2 separate regions of the Homo sapiens genome follow, and region 2 is linked to region 1. A link means that fine-mapping ties the variant in region 1 to the expression of a gene that starts in the linked region. Tissue or cell type: transverse colon. Region 1 holds a variant in brackets; the other region holds the start of a gene. All regions are shown on one strand. Distances are between the middles of the regions.

Region 1 (8,104 bases):
GCACAGTGGCTCATGCCTCTAATCCCAGCACTTTGGGAAGCTGAGGTGGGTGGACTGCTTGAGCTCAGGGGTTTGAAAACAGCCTGGACAACATGGCGAAACTCTGTCTCTACAAAAAATACAAAAATTAGCTGGGTGCACTGGCATGTGCCTGTAGTCCCAGCTATGTGGGGAGCTGAGGTGGGAGGACAGCTTGAGCCCGGGATATTGAGGCTGCAGTAAGCCGTGTTTATGCCACTGTGCTCCAGCCTGGGTGACAAAGTGAGACACTGTCTCAAAAACAAACAAACAAACAAACCTAGGAAGTATTTAATGATGAAAATAGAATTTAAGTATGTAGCAAAATATAGTGGATTCTTAACATTTTTTGATGTAGTTCAACTCTGACATATAAACATTAGGAAATTAAGATCCCATGAGATTAGTGACTTCAAAACAAATTACACAAAATAGTTTGAGTTGAGGCCAAGATTATTAGATCCAGTGATTCAGAAGTTAAAACAAATGCTAAGGGTAAGAGAAGGCAACAGTGCACCTGTGATAAGTTATCAATAAATTACCTATTTTGTTTAACTAATTTGAGTTGGGTTATACCACTGCACTTCAAGTAGATTACAGGCCAATCAGACAACTAGATAAGTGGACTTGGTGCTGGGGAAATGGGACAGGGTGGTGGAGGCTGTGCTGACCCAGACAGCACATTCTGTCTCTAAAGAGAAAGGGGTGAATTTTGCAGCAACTGATGGCTGCCATGCAGGGATGTGGGCCTAGTGGTACCAAATAGTATGACTTTGCTAGAGAATGCTGAAATATAGATTTTTATAATAAAACACTCAATTTTTAAAATGCTATGTTCATTTATTTTTCTTTAGCCACTGGGCAGGCCTAAGAAAAATGTATGTGAATTAGGCAAGATGGCCAAACAGGAAGAGCTGCAGTCTGCAGCTCCCAGCGGGATCGATGCAGAAGATGGGTGATTTTTACATTTCCAACTGAGGTACCTGGTTCATCTCACTGGGACTGGTTGGACAGTGGGTGCAGACCACGGAGGGCAAGCTGAAGCAGGGTGGGCGTCGCCTCACCCAGGAAGCGCAAGGGGTCGGGGAATTTCCCTTTCCTAGCCAAGGGAAGCCATGACAGACTGTACCTGGAAAAATGGGACACTTCTGCCATAATACTGAGCTTTTCCAATGGTCTTATCAAATGGCATACCAGAAGATTATATCCCGCACCTAGCTCGGTGGGTCCCACGCCCACGGAGCCTCACTCACTGCTAGCACAGCAGTCTGAGATCGACCTGTGAGGCAGCAGCCTGGCAGGGGGAGGGCCATCCGCCATTGCTGAGGCTTGAGTAGGTAAACAAAGCGGCCTGGAAGCTTGAACTGGGTGGAGCCCACCACAGCTCAGCAAGGCCGGCTGCCTCTATAGATTCCACCTGTGGGGGCAGAGCATAGCTGAGCAAAAGGCAGCAGAAACCTCTGCAGACTTAAACATCCCTGTCTGATAGCTCTGAAGAGTACAGTGGTTCTCCCAACACGGTGTTTGAGCACTGAGAATGGACAGACTGCCTCCTCAAGTGGGTCCCTGACCTCTGTGTAGCCTAACTGGGATAAACCTCCCAGTAGGGGCCGACTGACACCTCATACAGGTGGGTGCCCCTCTGGGACGAAGCTTCCAGAGGAAGGATCAGGCAGCAATATTTGCTGTTCTGCAGCCTCCGCTGGTGATACCCAGGCAAACAGGGTCTGGAGTGAGCCTCCAGCAAACACCAACAGAGCTGCAGCTGAGGGACCTGACTGTTAGAAGGAAAACTAACAAACAGAAAGGAATAGCATCAACACCAACAAAAAGGGCATCCATACCAAAACCCCATCTGTCAGTCACCAATATCAAAGACCAAAGGTAGATAAAACCACAAAAATGGGGAGAAACCACAGGAGAAAAGCTGAAAATTCTAAAAACCAGAGCGCCTCTTCTCCTCCAAAGGATTGTAGCTCCTCACCAGCAATAGAACAAAGCTGGACGAGAATAACTTTGACGAGTTGACAGAAGTAGGCTTCAGAAGGTCGGTAATAACAAACTTCGACAAGCTAAAGGACCATGTTCAAACCCAATGCAAGGAAGCTAAAAACCTTGAAAAAAGATTAGACGAATGGCTAACTAGAATAAACAGTGTAGAGAAGACCTTAAATGAACTGATGGGGCTGAAAACCAGAGCATGAGAACTTCATGACACCTGCACAAGGCTTCAACAGTCGATTCGATCAAGTGGAAGAAAGGGTATCACTGAGTGAAGATCAAATCAATGAAATAAAGCGAGAAGAGAAGTTTAGAGAAAAAAGAGTAAAAAGAAATGAACAAAGCCTCCAAGAAACATGGGACTATGTGAAAAGACCAAATCTACATTTGATTGGTGTACCTGAAAGTGATGGGGATAATGGAACCAAGTTGGAAAACACTCTTCAGGATATTATCCAGGAGAACTTCCCCAACCTAGCAAGGCAGGCCAACATTCAAATTCAGGAAAAACAGAGAATACCACAAATATACTCCTCGAGAAGAGCAACCCCAAGACACATAATTGTCAGATTCACCAAGGTTGAAATGAAGGAAAAAATGTTAAGGGCAGCCAGAGTGAAAGGTCGGGTTACCCACAAAGGGAAGCCCATCAGACTAACAGCGGATCTCTCAGCAGAAACTCTACAAGCCAGAAGAGAGTGGGGGGCAATATTCAACATTCTTAAATAAAGAATTTTCAACCCAGAATTTCATATCCAGCCAAACTAAGATTCATAAGTGAAGGAGAAATAAAATCCTTTACAGACAAGCAAATGCTGAGAGATTTTGTCACCATCAGGCCTGACTTACAAGAGCTCCTAAAGAAAGCACTAAAAATGGAAAGGAACAACCAGTACCAGCCACTGCAAAAACATGCCAAATTGTAAAGACCATCGACGCTAGGAAGAAACTGCATCGGTACTGCTGACATCTCAGCTCACTGCAACCTCCCTGCCTGATTCTCCTGCCTCAGCTTGCCGAGTGCCTGCAATTGCAGGCACGCACCGCCACGCCTGACTGGTTTTCGTATTTTTTTGGTGGAGACGGGGTTTCGCTGTGTTGGCCGGGCTGGTCTCCAGCTCCTAACCGCGAGTGATCCGCCAGCCTCGGCCTCCCGAGGTGCCGGGATTGCAGACGGAGTCTGGTTCACTCAATGCTCAATGTTGCCCAGGCTGGAGTGCAGTGGCGTGATCTCAGCTCGCTACAACCTCCACCTCCCAGCCGCCTGCCTTGGCCTCCCAAAGTGCCGAGACTGCAGCCTCTGCCCAGCCGCCACCCTGTCTGGGAAGTGAGGAGCGTCTCTGCCTGGCCGCCCATCATCTGGGACGTGAGGAGCCCCTCTGCCTGGCTGCCCAGTCTGGAAAGTGAGGAGCGCCTCTTCCCAGCCGCCATCCCATCTAGGAAGTGAGGAGCGCCTCTTCCCGGCCGCCATCCCATCTAGGAAGTGAGGAGCGTCTCTGCCCGGCCACTCATCGTCTGAGATGTGGGGAGCGCCTCTGCCCCGCCGCCCCGTCTGGGATGTGAGGAGTGCCTCTACCCGGCCGCAACCCCGTCTGGGAGGAGAGGAGCGTCTCTGCCCGACCGCCCCGTCTGAGAAGTGAGGAGCCCCTCCGCCCGGAAGCCGCCCCGTCTGAGAAGTGAGGAGCGTCACCGCCCCGCAGCCACCCCGTCCAGGAAGGAGGTGGGGGTCACCCACCGCCAGGCCAGCCGCCCCGTCCAGGAGGGAGGTGGGGGGGTCAGCCCTCCGCCCGGCCAGCCGCCCCGTCCGGGAGGTGAGGGGCGCCTCTGCCCAGCCGCCCCTACTGGGAAGTGAGGAGCCCCTCTGCCCGGCCAGCTGCCCCGTCCGGGAGGGAGGTGGGGGGGTCAGCCCCCCGCCCGGCCAGCCGCCC[G/A]GTCCGGGAGGGAGGTGGGGGGGGTCAGCCCGCCACCCGGCCTGCCGCCCCATCCGGGAGGGAGGTGGGGGGGTCAGCCCCCCCGCCCGGCCAGCCGCCCCGTCCGGGAGGGAGGTGGGGGGGTCAGCCCCCTGCCCGGCCAGCCACCCCGTCCGGGAGGTGAGGGGCGCCTCTGCCCGGCCGCCCCTACTGGGAGGTGAGGAGCCCCTCTGCCCGGCCACCACCCCGTCTGGGAGGTGTGCCCGGCAGCTCATTGAGAACGGGCCATGATGACAATGGCGGTTTTGTGGAGTAGAAAGTGGGGAGAGGTGGGGAAAAGAGTGAGAAATCGGATGGTTGCCGTGTTTGTGTAGTAGGAGGTAGACATGGGAGACTTTTCATTTTGTTCTGTACTAAGAAAAATTCTTCTGCCTTGGGATCTTGTTGATCTGTGACCTTACCCCCAACCCTGTGCTCTCTGAAACATGTGCTGTGTCCACTCAGGGTTAAATGGATTAAGGGCGGTGCAAGATGTGCTTTGTTAAACAGATGCTTGAAGGCAGCATGCTCGTTAAGAGTCATCACCACTCCCTAATCTCAAGTACCCAGGGACACAAACACTGCGGAAGGCCGCAGGGTCCTCCGCCTAGGAAAACCAGAGACCTTTGTTCACTTGTTTATCTGCTGACCTTCCCTCCACTATTGTCCTGTGACCCTGCCAAATCCCCCTCTGTGAGAAACACCCAAGAATGATCAATAAAAAATAAATAAAAGTTTAAAAAAAAAAAAGGAAAAAAAAAAGAAACTGCATCAACTAACGAGCAAAATAACCAGCTAACATCATAATGACAGGATCAAATTCACACATAACAATATTAACCTTAAATGTAAATGGGCTAAATGCCCCAATTAAAAGACACCAACTGGCAAATTGGATAGTCAAGACCCATTGGTGTGCTGTATTCAGGAGACCCATCTTACGTGCAGAGACACACATAGGTTCAAAATAAAGGGATGGAGGAAGATCTACCAAGCAAATGGAAAGCAAAAAAAACCAGCGATTGCAATCCTAGTCTCTGATAAAACAGACTTTAAACCAACAAAGATCAAAAGAGACAAAGAAGGCCATTACATAATGATAAAGGGATCAATTCAACAAAAAGAGCTAACTATCCTAAATATATATGCACCCAATACAGGAGCACCCAGATTCATAAAGCAAGTCCTGAGTGACCTACAAAGAGACTTAGACTCCCACACAATAATAATGGGAGACTTTAACACCCCACTGTCAATATTAGACAGATGAATGAGACAGAAGGTTAACAAGGGTATCCAGGACTTGAACTCAGCTCTGGACCAAGCGGACCTAATAGACATCTACAGAACTCTCCACCCCAAATCAACAGAATATACATTCTTCTCAGCACCACATCGCACTTATTCCAAAATTGACCACATAGTTAAAAGTAAAGCACTCCTCAGCAAATGTAAAAAAAACAGAAATCACAACAAACTGTCTCTTAGACCACAGTGCAATAAATTAGATCTCAGGATTAAGAGACTCACTCAAAACTGCACCACTACATGGAAACTGAACAACTTGCTCCTGAATGACTACTGGGTAAATAACGAAATGAAGGCAGAAATAAAGATGTTCTTTGAAATCAATGAGAACAAAGATACAATGTACCAGAATCTCTGGGACACATTCAAAGCAGTGTGTAGAGGGAAATTCATAGCACTAAATGCCCACAGGAGAAAGCAGGAAAGATCTAAAATCGACACCCTAACATCACAATTAAAAGAACTAGAGAAGCAAGAGCAAACAAATTCAAAAGCTAGCAGAAGGCAGGAAATAACTAAGATCAGAGCAGAACTGAAGGAGATAGAGACATAAAAAACCCTTCAGAAAATTAATGAATCCAGGAGCTGGTTTTTTGAAAAGATCAACAAAATTGATAAGACTGCTAGCAAGACTAATAAAGAAGAAAAGAGAGAAGAATCAAATAGATGCAATAAAAAATGATAAAGGGGATATCACCACCTATCCCACAGAAATACAAACTACCATCAGAGAATACTATAAACACCTCTACGCAAATAAACTAGAAAATCTAGAAGAAATGGATGAATTCCTGGACACATACACCCTCCCAAGACTAAACCAGGAAGAAGCTGAATCTCTGAATACACCAATAACAGGCTCTGAAATTGAGGCCATAATTAATAGCCTAGCAACCAAAAAAAGTCTAGGACCAGACGGATTCACAGCCAAATTCTATCAGAGGTACAAAGAGGAGCTGGTACCATCCCTTCTGAAACTATTCCAATCAATAGAAAAAGAGGGAATACTCCCTAACTCATTTTATGAGGCCAGCATCATCCTGATACCAAAGCCTGGCAGAGACACAACAAAAAAAGAGAATTTTAGATCAATATTTCTGATGAACATCGATGCAAAAATCCTCAATAAAATACTGGCAAAGTGAATCCAGCAGCACATCAAAAAGCTTATCCACCACAATAAAGTCGGCTGTATCTATGGCATGCAAGGCTGCTTCAACATACGCAAATCAATAAATGCAATCCATCACATAAACAGAACCAATGACAAAAACCACATGATTATCTCAATAGATGCAGAAAAGGCCTTCGACAAAATTCAACAGCACTTCATGCTAAAAACTCTCAATAAACTAGATATTGATGGAACGTATCTCAAAATAATAAGAGCTATTTATGACAAACCCACAGCCAATATCATACTGAATGGACAAAAACTGGAAGCATTCCCTTTGAAAACTGGCACAAGACAGGGATGCCCTCTCTTACCACTCCTCTTCAATATAGTGTTGGAAGTTCTGGCCAGGGCAATCAGGCAAGAGAAAGAAATAAAGTGTATTCAATTAGGAAAAGGGGAAGTCAAATTGTCCCTGTTTGCAGATGACATGATTGTATATTTAGAAAACCCCATCATCTCAGCCCAAAATCTCCTTAAGCTGATAAGCAACTTCAGCAAAGTCTCAGGATAGAAAATCAATGTGCAAAAATCACAAGCATTCCTATGTACCAATAACAGACAAACGGAGAGCCAAATTATGAGTGAACTCCCATTCACAGCTGCTACAAAGAGAATAAAATACCTAGGAATCCAACTTACAAGGGATGTGAAGGACCTCTTCAAGGAGAACTACAAACCACTGCTCAACGAAATAAAAGAGGACACAAACAAATGGAAGAACATTCCATGCTCATGGGTAGGAAGAATCAATATTGTGAAAATGGCCATACTGCCCAAGATAATTTTATAGATTCAATGCCATCCCCATCAAGCTATCAATGACTTTCTTCACAGAATTGGAAAAAACTACTTTAAAGTTCATATGTAACCAAAAAAGAGCCCGCATTGCCAAGACAATCCTAAGCCAAAAGAACAAAGTTGGAGGCATCACGCTACCTGACTTCAAACTATACTACAAGGCTACAGTAACCAAAACAGCATGGTACTGGTACCAAAACAGAGATATAGACCAACGGAACAGAACATAGGTCTCAGAAATAATACCACACATCTACAACCATCTGATCTTTGACAAACCTGAGAAAAACAAGAAATGGGGAAAGGGTTTCCTGTTTAATAAATGGTGCTGGGAAAACTGGCTAGCCATATGTAGAAAGCTGAAACTGGATCCCTTCCTTACACTTTATACAAAAATTAATTCAAGATGGATTAAAGACTTAAATGTTGGACCTAAAACCATAAAAACCCTAGAAGAAAACCTAGGCAATACCATTCAAGACATACGCATGGGCAAAGACTTCATGAGTAAAACACCAAAAGCAATGGCAACAAAAGACAAAATAGACAAATGGGATCTAATTAAACTAAAGAGCCTCTGCACAGCAAAAGAAATGACCATCAGAGTGAACAGGCAACCTACAGAATGGGAGAAAATTTTTGCAATCTACCCATCTGACAAAGGGCTAATATCCAGAATCTACAAAGAACTTAAACAAATTTACAAGAAAAAAACAAACAACCTCATCAAAAAGTGGGCAAAGGATATGAACAGACACTTCTCAAAAAAAAAACATTTATGCAGCCAAGAGACACATGAAAAAAATGCTCATCATCACTGGTCATCAGATAAATGCAAATCAAAACCACAATGAGA
Region 2 (8,085 bases), 200 kb after region 1:
TCTCAGAGCATTGTGGGCTACATTTTCTCTTGTCATTGTTGTTTTTTGAAAAAGGCTCCTCTCCAGTCCAGGTCTCCTTAATCCTTGACTTCTTCCTTACAGCTTGGAGAGTATCATCTACAAGACCTCAAGAAATCATTGTTAAAGTTAGCCCAGAGAAACAACTGAGCTTTCCAGGCCCCAGTCAGCTCCCAGTCAGCTCCCAGTAATAAAGAGAACCTTTGTGAGTGCAAGGTTCCAGGCTCTAGAGAGTGCTTCCTCTGACAGAAACCCCCTGCCTAAGGCTCTGGGATACAAACACTCATGTTACGCACGAGACTGCTGAAACCAAACACATGAACTTCCTTTGGTCTTTGTTCATAGGATCCCTTCAGCTAATTACAATAGACTCTTTACCACTCTAACAATGAGCATCCTGACTACTCCTGTGTAACCTGGAACAAGTACCTCACTTCTGAGCCTTAGTTTCTTAACCTGTAAAATAGGGATAGTAACAGTTCCTACCTTATGGGGTTGTCATGAGAATTTGATGTATAATACATTTCAAGTTTTTGAACAGTGCCTGGTATACGGGTTTAAATGTTACTTATTACCCTTCTGTAACTAGTACTCTTTCCTATGTTCCGCAGAGTTAACAAGTAATCATTAATCATGATACATATGAGAGAAAATCCTAACCACCTCCTCAATTAACAAAGAAAGGATGAATTAAGTTCTGTGTAGTTTTGCTCTACATGCCTTTAATTCTCTGAAAATTGTTCTTTCTGTTAATCAAAATATTTGGATAAATTTGCCTTTTCTTCTTTTCCTTTCACATCTAGTCCCACAGATGGATAAATATGAATAGAGTTTTATTATACAGAACTTAGACTTGCTCTCTAGAAATCATCTGCTCTTTAGAAATAACATTTTTCTAATTATAAAACCAGAAAACACACAAAACCAGAAAACAATCACTGCTATTATTCTGAACTATGTCCTTACCATAGTTTAATTATCATAGATAAATTCTAACTTTCCCCTATTATTAATAAGGTCACAACGGCTATCCTTGATAACAAATTTTTAGTTACATCTCTGCTTATTTCTTCAGGATAAACTCCTAGGAGAAAATTGTTGGGCTGAAGGATAAAAACATTTTTAAGCTTTTAAGGTTATAACAGTTATATCACCATCAGTGACATATGAAAACATCCTCTTTATTTGAACACACAGACCCTTAAAGAGAGCTTGCTTATAACAAACAGGGGAGCCAGAAATATAAACATAATTTCAATATAATGTTTAAGTACAAGTAATAGGAGAACATAAAACTACAGAAAGGATTCATGAAAGGAAATTTCTTTTTTTTTTTTTTTTTGAGATGGAGTCTCGCTCTGTCACCCAGGCTGGAGTGCAGTGGCATGATCTCGGCTCAGCGCAACCTCTGCTTGACAGGTTCAAGCAATTTTCCTGTCTCAGCTTTCCAGGCAGCTGGTACTACAGGCTCGCACCACCATGCCCAGGTAATTTTTGTATTTTTGGTAGAGACGGGGTTTCGCAATGTTGGCCAGGATGGTCTCAATCTCTTGACCTCGTGATCTGCCTGCCTTGGACTCCCAAAGTGCTGAGATTACAGGCATGAGCCACCATACCCAGCCATGAAAGGTACTTTTGGATTGGGCTTTTAAGGAAAAATAAAAGGATCATTGGACTATGAGGAAAGCCATTCCAGGAAGAAAGAAACTCTATTTTCAAAAGCAAGGAAGGACACATAACTCTGTGAAGGAAGACCAGAGAAGGAAAGTAAACTTCAGAGGCAAGAGTGTAGGAGTAGAGCAGAGAGGTGAACAGAAGTTAAATTCTAACTACTGCTCTTGAGAGGCAGTATTCTGAGGAGATGATCCTGTCCTGTAAGTGAAGTGATTTTACTTACATTTCAGCATTAAAGAGGCTTTACTTTACATTTTTCCTTATTTTTAAAAATAGTAATATATTCACTTGGTTCAAAATTTAAAATTATAAAATGTATACTGTGTAAAGTTTCCTTCTCCGTTAGCTTCTTATCTATCTTTCCAGTTATTTCTGCATATGTGTGTACATATATTGTTTTCTAGTTCCCTTTTTTTCACAAATGGTAGGACACCATGAATGACGTGGTACATTTTCCTCTTCTCAATAATATGTCTTAGAGATCTTTCCTGTCAATACACAGCCCCTCTCCGCATTTTTATGGATGCATAGATGTATCATAATTTATTCATGCCAGCACTGATGGAATGTTTGGGTAGTTTTCAATCATTTCTTATTACCAACAATATAATCATGAATAATCTTGGGCATACATCAGTTTGGATGTGTGTAGGCATATATAAGAAAAATTCCTTGAATCAGAATTGCTGAGTTAAAAGGTATATACATGTATAATTTTGATATTGCCAATTTGACCTCACTAGGATTGAACCAATTTATAATTTATACTCCCATCAGAAACAGCTGTATGGGAGTGCCTTTCCTCACTTTCACCAATATGTTTCTCAAAGTTTGTGCTCTTCGCCAAATTTTTGACTTGCATTTTGAACGAATTAATATAGAGTCATTTGTATATTTTTTAAAGTAACTATTCATATATTTTGCCCATGTTTCCATTGAGGTGTTGGGTCTTGTTAATTTGTACACACTTTTATCACAGGAAAATTAGTCCTTTGTTTACAATGGCAGCTGCAAATTTTTCTCAGTTTGTCAAGTGTCTTTGTGACTATATATGCCATGTGACTTTGCTTAAAGTGTTTTTTGCCATGCAGTCAATCTTTTACGACTTCTGGGTACTGTACCACAATTAGAAAGACCTTTTTCACTCTGAGCATGAAGAGAGTCTTAAGTGGTGTCAGGACTCTATTAGTGAGAAATGGTGGGGGTGGGAGGGCTGGATATCAAGAAAGGTCAGTTAGGTTTTTCTAATAGTCTAAACACATGACTTAAGTTCTAAACGAAGTAGGGATAAGGCAATTGAGAAAAACTTGGTAGTCCTTGGTAACTGATCTGGGGGTGATGGAAAGGAATTTTTAAAAAGAATTTTGAATAATTTTCAAATAACATAAAAATAACAAATTCTTAAACATACATTTTATTAGCTTCTCACAAAAGGTTTTCAAAGCAGAAGTTAAAAAAAACAAAAGGATCAGAGGAGCGAATCCACTCAAGGCCACTTAGCTAACTGAGACATGGGAGCAAATTCTGAATTCAGGGATTCTAATTCCAGAAGTCCAAAACAATTCCATCTACGAAGAAACTTATGAAACCCAAACAACCCAAACTGTTCTAAAACAACAGTTTCCAAACACCAGTCCACGACAAAGCTTTAATCTGGTAAGCTGCAAAAAGAGAAAACCAGTAACAATCGTCGCTGACAGGTTGGCAATGAGTGTGTGTGTGTGTGTGTGTGTGTGTGTGTGTGTGTGCGCGCGCGCGCGCAAAGGCCAGCATTTATTCTGAGTTTACGGTCTTAGTACTTTGTGTTAAAATGTATTGCCTGAAGTAATGTTGGTATGGGTGGTTTCAAGTTTGAGTTTTTCAAGTTTGATTTTTAAATACCATTATATTACAAAACTAAAAGACTAAAAAAGCTAAAATCGTTCCACCCCTTAAAACAAACAAACAAAAAAATCCGTCCTCAAGAGTCTGGGCGCCACCGGTAATAGGGAAACCTCAGAATGTTTCTGTGGATTAGCCTCAGACAAGACTGAGGAAGAGCAGAAAGGCCTGAGCTGGGGGAGCAGGCTACTGAGGCAGCTCTTCTCAAAGCGCCAGCAGAGTCCGTTAGACAGGAGCACCGGTCCACAAACACACACAGACTCGGAGCTGCTGTCCTCAGTACTTCCCTCGGGCCGGCTGCCTGCCCAGCCGAGGCCACGACGTCGAACCCCAACACGAAGCTGGCGACGGACCATGCCGGGGGTCAGGGCCCGGGAGAGGCTACCGAGGGCTGTGCAGTCCCAGCAAGCTCAGGCCCGCGTCCCGGGCCGCCTTCCCTGCACGCCCACCCGCCCCCGAGCCCACCCCGCTCACCGGGGGCTCCCGCTGCGGCTCCAGCCTTGCGTACCGCCGCCTCGGCGCCAGGCCGCTAGGAGATGACACAGGAACGAGCCCTTCCGGCAGCCGAGGCACAGAATAATGGCCGAGCCGAGAATACTGCGACTTCCGGTTGCACCCCGCCCCTCATCCCGGATCTCTAGGAAGCCACATCTCTATGGTTCGTTTCTTTTCCCAGAACTGGGGAAGAGAGGCGGAACTCCTGAGCCCTTGGGTACTAGTGTTCCTTACATCGAACAAGAACTGGCCGCTGTTTCAGACCGGAAGGGTGCAGAGATGAAAGACAGGACCCAGGGTCTCAGGATGCCTGTTGCCTCCTAAGAGAGTTGGACATTTCTATTTTGATTTGCATTTCAATTGAGGTTGATAGGGAGTGACCTTCACGTCTGAATGACCTGGTAGGTGACTTTTCTGGTCTCTTCTTGAACTTATGCAATTCTCACTATAAATAATAACATGACTTATAAATCACCCTCTTGTGAATTCGCTTACTGTGGTGTATCTCTTGCCCACATGATGACATATTGGAGCTATGATATTAAATAATAATCAAGTTGATGGTGCAAGGTAATGTGCAAATGGTAGGGACATCTCTCCCCTGAAAGAAGAGGTTATTCTAGCTGTCCATCGCCCTGGGTAAAGTCAGGTGTATATAAAGGAAACTGGCACTCTGATCCTCTCTTTGGTCTTCAGTCTCTTAAGTTTGGACTTCTGGAACTGACACCCCTATATGGGACTATGGCTGAAACAAGTCTCCAAAAGGGCAAAGGCCATGTCTGCATGGATCCCATGTATTTAGCACCTAGTACAAAGCTGAAGCCATATAGGTTGTAGATGAATGTTTATTCAATGAGCAAGGTTCATGTTATTCTGTTTATGTCTTTTTTTTTTTTTTGAGATGGAGTTTTGCTCTTGTTGCCCAGGCTGGAGTGCAGTGGCGCAATCTTGGCTCACTGCAATCTCCACCTCCCGGGTTCAAGCGATTCTTCTGCCTCAGCCTCCTGAGCAGCTGGGATTACAGGCACGTGCCACCATGCCTGGCTATTTTTTTTTTTTTTTTTTTTTTTTAGTAGAGACGGGGTTTCACAATGTTGGCCAGGCTGGTCTTGAACTCCTGACCTCAGGTGATCCACCCCCACCTTGGCCTTCTAAAGTGTTGGAATCACAGGCGTGAGCCACCGTGCCAGGCTTATTCTGTTTATTTCTTTATGTTCTCTCCTGGCATTCATTAAACAACATACTTAAACTTCAGCCTTGATTCATTCATTCATTCAACTACTGAGTACTTGCCATATGCCAAATACTGTTCTGGGCACTAGGGACATAGATAAAGAGGTAAAGTCTCTGTTCTCATGGGGCTTACATTTCTAGTGGGATAAACAGAAAACAAATATAAAAATGTGTCAGGTGGTGGTAAATGCTAAGAAATGTGAAAGCTGATCATAAGAATTGGGTCATTTTTGTCATACCTAATAAAAGAAAGTCGAGAAATTAGCTGGGGGAAGCACTCAGGGTACACAACATTGCTCCAGGAATGTTATTCTCTGTAAGCTTGACTGCTGAAACTGCTTATTATAAGCCAAAACCAGTTTTATCTATAGCTTCTGAGATAAGTTGCTGCAACTCTAGGACTAATTTTGCCCACCGCAGTTGCTCACCAACTGGAGCTTGTCAGCTCCCCACACCCTTACTACTGCCAATGAACTTTCTCAAAGAGCAATATGTAACATTCCTCCTTTTTGTAAAACCTCTAACCTTCTCTTTGTTCTTCAGAGAGAGCACCACTTTCAGTTCAAGCCAGAGACTATCTCTCCGAGTTTGTAAACTGATGTTGTGAATAAAACTTTCTTTTCTTTCTTTCTTTCTTTTTTTTTTTTTTTTTTTTGAGATGGAGTCTCACTCTGTCGCCCAGGCTGGAGTGCAGTGGCGCGATCTCGCTCACTGCAACCTCCGCCTCCCGGGTTCAAATGATTCTCCTGTCTCAGATTCCTGAGTAGCTGGGATTACAAGCGCACGCCACCATGCCTGGCTAATTTTTTGTATTTTAGTAGAGATGGGGTTTCACCGTGTTGCCCAGGCTGGTCTCAAACTCCTGAGCTCAGGCAATCCACCCGCCTCGGCCTTCCAAAGTGCTAGGATTACAGGTGTGAGCCACTGTGCCGGCCAACTTTCTTTTCTACTATCTAGCCATCCTGGTGGTCCTTTGGATGACATAAAAAAGGGTAAGGAGGACCCAACAAAGGAGACTGAGAAGCAGCAGCCAATCAAGTAGGAAGAGAAGAAGGAAATAGTACTTTATGGGTCTCAAAGTATGAATGAGTAGATTTTGAAATATTGATCAATGTGATTGCTGTTCCCCCCACACTAAATTATAATTTTACTTGTAAACCAAGGCTCCCTTCTCCTCCCCTGCCCTACCTAGGTAGACAGGAGTTACACACTATGGGACTGGAAACAAAAGTGACAAAAACGATAGTGAGTTAGGCCATTAGAAGCCTTTAGTAAGGTGAAAAACATTCTTGCCTTGCTGGGAAAGAAGAAAGGAATGGGAGGAGCCAAAATGACCAACTAGACTATGGACCACTGACCAGTGAGCCTGTAATCATTCACACTCCTACTAAGCAATGGCCCGGAAGCATGTAACCAAAGAGTTGTCAGCTGGTAAGAACCACCAGTTGCCAGTGGCCAGCCCAGAGCCTCAGTTTTGTCACTCAGTTTGTGCCCTGAGATTCTGCCCATCTGACAAAGAACTTGAAGCACCCTCACCACTGTCCCAAGATGAAAGACTTGGTAACCTTGTGGAATGATGGTGATAGGAAAGGAACACCCTATCTTTGACCAAGGTGGAACTATACAAAACCTGTTTAAAGTGGGCCAGAGCTCTGGGACAGTGGTATAATACAACACATAGCCTTTGTTTTACATACACACACATTCCTGGTATTTAAAATCCCCAAATGTACTGGTGAAAAAAACTAAGCAAACAAGAAATAAATGAGTTTGAGATAGGCATATGAGAAGAGGCTGGAAGCACAGGACTGACATTTCAAGATGGGTTAAGATCTTAGACTACTGATCAACTAAAATGGAAATCCCGGTCTGAATGGAAAGTTTGTATTTCTCATCTTTCTATAAAACCCCACTTTGCCAGAGTTGTTTTTAATGCAAATTGGAATGTGATTGACCTATGACCAAGGATTATATGTATATAATATATATGGCTAAGAAATCTCAAGACATGCAATCTGAAGACCCAGGAGAGCTGAAGGTATAGTTGTAGTCCAAGATCTATAGGCCTAAGAAGCAGAAAAGCTGCTGGTGTAACTTCCAGTCTGAGTCCTAGTCGGAATCCAAATGTGTTAGTCTGTTCTCGCACTGCTATAAAGAAATGCCTGAGATTGGGAACTTTATAAAGAAAAGAGGTTTAATTGGCTCACAGTTCTGCAGGCTGTACAGGAATCATGGTACCATCTGCCTCTGGGGAGGCCTCAGGGAACTCATGGGGGAAGGCAAAGTGGGAGCAGATGTCTTATGTGGCAGCAGAAGGACCAAGGGTCGGGGGAGGAGGGAGGTGCTACACACTTTTAAACAACCAGGTCTCACTCACTATCTCAACACAGAGCCAAGGGGTAAAGCCATCCCTATGATCCAATCACCTCCCATCAGGCCCCACCTCCAACATTGGGAATTACAGTTTGACATGAGATTTGGGCGGGGACAGAAATCTAAACCATATCACCAAAGGTGGGAGAAGACCAATGTCCCAGCCAGAAGACAGGCAGAAAGAGCAAATTCTCTCTCAGTCTTTTCCTTCTACTCACATCTCCAATGGCTTGGATGAGGCTCACTCATGTTAAGGAGGGCAATCAGTCTACAGATTCAGATGTTAATCTCATCCAGAGATACCCCCACAGACACTCAGAATAATGTTTAGCCAAATGTCTGGGCACACTATGGCCCATTCAAGTTAACATGTAAAATGAACTATCACATATGGATTCTTCCAAATACAGT

What was found. PIP is the estimated chance that this variant, and not a neighbour inherited with it, causes the effect.
Region 2: ZNF197 starts here. The variant in region 1 is fine-mapped to the expression of ZNF197 in transverse colon (GTEx, PIP above 0.99).

Annotation. Positions count from the first base shown.
Region 1 is chr3:44,816,950-44,825,053 of GRCh38, reverse strand. All of the region lies in intron 20 of KIF15 (kinesin family member 15), which reads right to left. Among named protein-coding and RNA genes, the nearest start is that of MIR564, 41 kb to the left of the region's middle. The variant G/A (reference allele first, on the strand shown) is at 3,948.
Region 2 is chr3:44,621,106-44,629,190 of GRCh38, reverse strand. It overlaps ZNF197 (zinc finger protein 197), which reads right to left and starts at 4,155. Exons shown (of 6, transcript NM_006991.5): 1 at 4,048-4,155; 2 at 1-117. The coding sequence starts at 36. ZNF660-ZNF197 (ZNF660-ZNF197 readthrough) reads right to left here. Exons shown (of 8, transcript NR_147692.2): 3 at 1-117. The region is part of intron 2 of ZKSCAN7-AS1 (ZKSCAN7 ZNF cluster antisense RNA 1); the gene reads left to right. It overlaps ZNF197-AS1 (ZNF197 antisense RNA 1), which reads left to right and starts at 4,394. Exons shown (of 2, transcript NR_046658.1): 1 at 4,394-4,469. RefSeq lists an enhancer at 3,320-3,822 and a silencer at 3,802-4,151.